Linked DNA regions of Homo sapiens: region 2 is linked to region 1. The links come from fine-mapping of genetic effects on gene expression. A gene starts in region 1. The other region holds a variant in brackets. All regions are shown on one strand. Distances are from middle to middle.

The links. PIP is the estimated chance that this variant, and not a neighbour inherited with it, causes the effect.
Region 2: its variant is the best candidate, but not a certain one, in a credible set for the expression of IFIT1B in whole blood (TOPMed, PIP 0.60).

What each region holds. Positions count from the first base shown.
Region 1 is chr10:89,376,098-89,379,009 of GRCh38, forward strand. It overlaps IFIT1B (interferon induced protein with tetratricopeptide repeats 1B), which reads left to right and starts at 1,959. Exons shown (of 2, transcript NM_001010987.2): 1 at 1,959-2,043. The coding sequence starts at 2,039. It also overlaps a transcript of LIPA not described here.
Region 2 is chr10:89,291,630-89,294,546 of GRCh38, forward strand. It overlaps LOC124902477 (a long non-coding RNA gene), which reads left to right. Exons shown (of 3, transcript XR_007062233.1): 3 at 358-496. LOC105378419 (a long non-coding RNA gene) reads right to left here. Exons shown (of 3, transcript NR_188200.1): 2 at 1,943-2,039; 3 at 481-724. It also overlaps a transcript of LIPA not described here. Among named protein-coding and RNA genes, the nearest start is that of IFIT2, 9.0 kb to the right of the region's middle. The variant T/C (reference allele first, on the strand shown) is at 1,199.

The sequences.
Region 1 (2,912 bases):
GAATCACTTGAACCTGGGAGGCAGAGGTTGCAGTGAGCAGAGATAGTGCCACTGTACTCCAGCCTAGGTGATACAGCGAGACTCTATCTTAAAAAAAAAAAAAAAAAAAAAAGAAGAAGAAGTCAAGAGGTCCAGCACATTCTTCTAGGAACTTGTCTCATGCGAATGGGGAGATGTGGTCTATCTCAAGTTGCCTAAATCCTTCCTTGAATAGACGTGGAGATGGGTTTTTAATTCACATAGAGAGAGAGATTATATACTATACTCTTTCTTAAGCATATTCTTTTCCTAAGATGTCTGCTCTCATTTCAACTGTGAATGCATAAGATCTTATGTGACGTTCCTTTTCTGGGTAGTCCTTCTTGTCTATATAATTTTTGGCTTTAGAAAGGTCAGGAGCAGTAACTGGAGCAGTAACTCAGAAGTTCCCTGAAAAGAAAGAGAAGAGCTGCCCCAGACATCTGAGAGCATCATTAACACCTGTGACCATGATGGGTCAAGACAAAATACAAGGCCACTCTGTAATCAGGTCTGAGTGCAGACAAAAATACGAATATTTTCCAACTGGATTCGAAAATAATCAAGCAGCCCCTTAAACTGGCCAATATGAATGACTGCTGCTTCCTTTCAAATTACACCTGTCACCTTGGTCTAGTCTTCTCTTTTTCCAGACACAATTTAAGATACCCAATTATAGAATCATTTCTGCTTCCTGACAGCCTCCCATCCCATGCCCATGACCACACCTTACCACATGGGAGCCTGGGAAATATAGTCTAGTTACAGGCCCAGGACAAAGAAGAAATAGCACAGCGAGGCTACAGTTTCATTTGGTAATTATGAGAAGACTGTAATGAAGTTAATAACCCTACCTTGAAATGCTCACTCAGAGGGAAATCGCTCTCAGTCTTTGCCCTTTTGCTTATCTTGGTGCACTACCCCTACAAAACCAAGATCCAGAAACGTACAGGATGACATTGTAACAATTCACAAGAGGAATTCAGAATAGCAGCTTTCCAAATTTTCCTTTTTCTCTGCTAATTGTGTGGGCAATTACATCAGCCTTGGGATCATATAAATTTTTCATTAAACATGTGAACATTGTTTGATTGACTCTCTGATGGTTGTTGCTTTGTAACAGATAATCTTCAAAATAGTAGAAACAGAAGAAACATAAGGACAACTCAGAAGAACTATGTGAATTTGGATTTAGATTTTTAACCCCCATGACCCCATCACATTCTCTGACTACATTGCATATGTTTCTCTACTGACCAGCTCAAACATTGTTGTTTGAACCACTAATGGTGAACAGTAAAGATCATCAAAACAGTCAATATGCTTGAATAGGCTCCACTATAGCCAGGGTTGGCAGTAATGCAAATGCTGCTGGAGGATGTAACCAGTATGGGACCCTTCTTATAGACCAATATCTCAAAATTGAGGAGTTGTTTTGCCTAACACAGCCCCACAGAAGAAGACCTAACCATCTGCAACCTCATTCTTCCACAAATTGACAATGACTTTCTACAGTATTCTTTTAGGCACAAACCACTGACCCTGGTCTAAGGAGCTTCCATTGTAGACGTCCCTGGAACCACCTGGCGGGATACATGTGATAGTAACAAGTTTGACAACAGAGTCTGACATGATTCACAAAAATATACGTTCCTGTCTGCCACTGGTTTTTCCACAACACTGAATGTCATCATAAAGTCCAGTTACCCTCTATCTCCTACACCACATTGACTCCAGCAAGGGAATTTGCGTATCAAAACTGCTTCTCACACACCCATCCTCTTAGCTGCCAAAACTCAGCATGTATTTGTAATCAAAGCAGAGACAGCCCTATTCCTCTGTATCATTTTCACCCTGCCAATTCACTAGGCATCAAGGGTGTAAAAAACTGCCTGGATATACCTCCCATATATAAGCACCATGCTTATCTGAGAAGCCCTAGAACTCTGTGGATGAACCTTGAAGGAGCCTCCAAGCCTGAACCAAAGCACTACAGATCACCTGCTATCTTCATAGCACCATGAGGTAAAGTCTTTCTCTGCTTCACTGACCTTATTTCTGCACACTTTGAAATTCTAAAACTTTCCTTAAGGGCCAATTTTTTGACAGGCCTTCTCCTAAGGGAGCTGTCCCACTGGTGGTTCTGACCCTGATAGGCACCCTCAACATGATAACCAAGAAGAGTTTAATAAGGGGGCTATTTAAGACGATATGGGCAAAGTTTAGGGAAATCAACAGGAAATGGTGCTTGTTGGTTGCAGGGCAGCGGGAAGAGGCGTGTTGGTTTACAACAGTGGTAACATGATAACCCTGGGCCTACAGGAGCAAGAGGAGAGAACCAGACCCAAGGAGACTCTAAGCTATAGCTGTAGGGGAGGGGCTTCTCAAGAGGCCTTTGGTGAAAAAATCACTGACAACCTCAAGCAGAGCACAGTGGGAGCTTAGGAATTAATTCCATGACCTTCACCTCCTCCTGCAATTTAATATCTGGCTGGTGCTCCCCAGTGGGCCAACCCCAGTAGAAAGTAAAAAATAAAAGAGTTTTGGAGTTAATAAAGTCCATAGAGTCAGCTTCCAAGCACAGAGCATGGTGAAGAATGTAGGAAAGTAGATTCAGAGGGGCAAGATGAGAATATATGTAGAGGCAAGTTTCCTAACTCCTGTTACAGAGCTCGCTTAGTAAGGGTAGCTGGCTTAATAAAAGCAGCAATGCTCTTAAGGAAATAAACGAGAAAGCAATCTTATTTCCAAAGATGTCATTTCTGTAGCACTTTCTAATAGAGGGACAATTACCCAGGCAACACTTAAAGACTGTTCACCAGGGAACAGAGGCCTGAGCCTAGAGAGGAGACTGGCCCGGGGACCAGTCAGGGCAAGAGCATTGAGATCCTTTT
Region 2 (2,917 bases), 84 kb before region 1:
TCCCTGACCATGAGCTGAGTGCAATGATTCCTTGACTGTGGGTTGGCTCCCCTGGGAAAGGTCCCATTATGTTCTATGTTTGGGAAGAAGTGTATACATGGTTATTTAGGGCCAGAGCAGGATACTGTTGTGGAAACAACTCATGATCCTTCCAAATTAGTGTTTCCCCTTCATAATATGAAGTCGTCACCAGGAAGGGGGCTTCCTACTCTGCAGCTACATGAACTAACCTTCACTTCTCCCCAGGTGGGCCATGAACTAGTGCTTCCTAATAGAATGTGAGTGAATGTGATGTATGTCATTTCCAAGTAAAGATGGTTAAGAATCAGGTGTACCCTCTTTACTCTCAATTTCCAGGCTCTAGGGGATGGTAGAGTCACAGGATGGAAGAACTCTGTGTCCTTGAATCATTGCATGGAAGAGAACTGGAAGTTGCCCAGGAACACCAGCCTTGGACAGTTATGTGAACAAGAAATAAACTTCTTTTACAGTGTCATTTATGTTTTTGAGCATCTTTGTTACAGCGGCTAGGTGTATACTAATTCAGGGATTCTGTGATAGCAATATTTCTTCTTCTTTTGAGTAGGTTTCCAAAACTTGATTTTCCACAATTCTGAAATATTTTGGTTCTGGGATAAACTTTTCTACTCTTTTGGCAGCACAAAGATCCCTTTGTACAGAGGCACTGATTTGTCTTCTTCTGGAGTAGCATCCCAGTTTCTCACTGTGGCCAACAAAGCGAATAAAAAGAAAAAAAGGATCTGAAATAGCAATCCAGCGGCAGCCACCAATACCTGATAATACTATAGTCAAAGCTCCACATTAGAGAACAGACCACTTTCAGGTGAGTGGCCCCTGGCCCTAGAAGTAAGTGGTATTCAAAGATGGTAAATGGTATGGGTGGCAGTAGAAGGTAGTAATAACTAACCCTTATTGGGCATTTACCATGTGCCAAGCACTGTTCTCAGAGCTTTATACATAGTAGTCCACTCAATCTCCACAAAACCCTATGTGGTAAATACTAACATAATTCCTTTTTCTTTTTTAGAGACCTAGTCACGTTCTGTCACACAGGCTGGAGTACAATGGTGCAATCTTGGTTCACTGCAGCCTCAAACTCCTGGGCTAAAGCAATCCTCCTGGGTAGCTAGGACGACAGGCTCATGCCACCATGCCTGGCTACTTTTTTTTTTTTTAA[T/C]TGTAGAGATAGGGTCTTGCTATGTTGCCCAGACTTGTTTCAAACTCCTGGCCTCAAGCAATTCTCCTGCCTCTGCCCCTCAAAGTGCTGAGATTACAGACATGAGCCACTGTACCTGGGCACAATTCTCATTTTAAAAATGAAGAAATTGAGGCACAGAAAGGTTTCTAATATGGTTTGGCTTTGTGTCCCCACCCAAATCTCATCTCAAATTATAATCCCCATAATCCTCATGTGTCAAGGGCAGGACCTGATGGGAGGATTGGATCATAGGGGTGGTTTCCCCCATATTATTCTCATGATAATGAGTGAGTTTTCATGAGAGCTGATGGTTTTATAAGCATCTGACATTTCCTCTGCTTACATTCACTCCCTCCTGCTGCCTTGTGAAGAAGGTGCCTTGCTTCCCCTTTGCCTTCTGCCATGATTGCAAGTTTCCTGAGCCCTCCCCATGGAACTGTGATTCAGTTAAACCTCTTTCCCAGTCTCAGGTAGTATCTTTCTAGAGTATGAGAACAGACTAACACAGTTTCCATCTCTATTACTTAACAGCAGCAGCCAGATCCCGGCCCCCTTTTCTCCACCCATATGTAATTCCTCTTACGGTCTCCACTTACTCTTTTTTTTCCCCATGGACTTGTCCCATATTGTCTAATTTATTTATTATTGTATTAGTCTACATTGGCTGCCATAATGAAAAATCACAGACTAGGTGGCTTAAGCAACAGAAATCTATTTTCTCACAGTTCTAGATGCTAGAAGTCCAAGTTGGTTTCTGGTGAGACCTCTCTTCCTGACCTGGAGATGGCAGCCTTTTCTTTATCTTCACATGGCCTTTCCTCTGTGTGAGATGAGAGAGAGAGAGAGAGAGAGAGAGAGAGAGAGAGATATCTGAGGTCTCTTCTTTTTCTTCTTGTTTGTATGAAGACGTCAGTGTTACCAGATTAGGGGTTACCAGATTAGGGGCCCCACCCTTAAGACCTCATTTAACCTTAAATACCTCCTCACAGGCCCTATCTCCAAACAAAGTTACGTTGAGGGTTAGGGCTTCAATGATGAATTTTGGGAAAGGAGTTGGGAACTCAATTCAGTCCAAAGCAGTTGTTTATTGCCATCTCTTCCTGATAGAATATAAGCTCCATGAAGACAGAGATCTTTGTGTACTGATGTATCTTAAGAGCCTAGAATGGTGCCTGGCACATAGTAGATTCTCAGTAAGTATTGATTTGATGAACGAATGGTGAATGAATGAATGAAACAAATACTCCTAGTGTTCTAACAGGGATAAGTGTACAAATTGTCCCAGCAGAAGTTTATTTAGCATGGTCTTATTTCTGAATAGGACTATGGAAAGATAAAGTCATTTACCCGCATCAAGTTTCCACTCAAAGACTGCCCAACTGCAGTCTAAAAAATTAATGCTGAAAAATGTCTTAGTCCATTTTTTTCTGCTATAACAGAATACCACAGATGGGCAGATTGGGAGATTGGGTAATTTATAATGAACAGACATTTATGGACACATGGTTCTGGAGGCTGGAAAGTCCAAGATCAAGGGGCCACATCTGGCCAGGGCCCTCTTACTGGGTCATCCCATGATGGAAGGGTAAATAGGGGGTGAGGGTGAGCAAGAGAAGGTTGAAGTCATCCTTTTATATGGAACTCCGTCCCTCAATAATGGCATTAATCTATTCAAGAGGACAATGCCCCCATAACCCA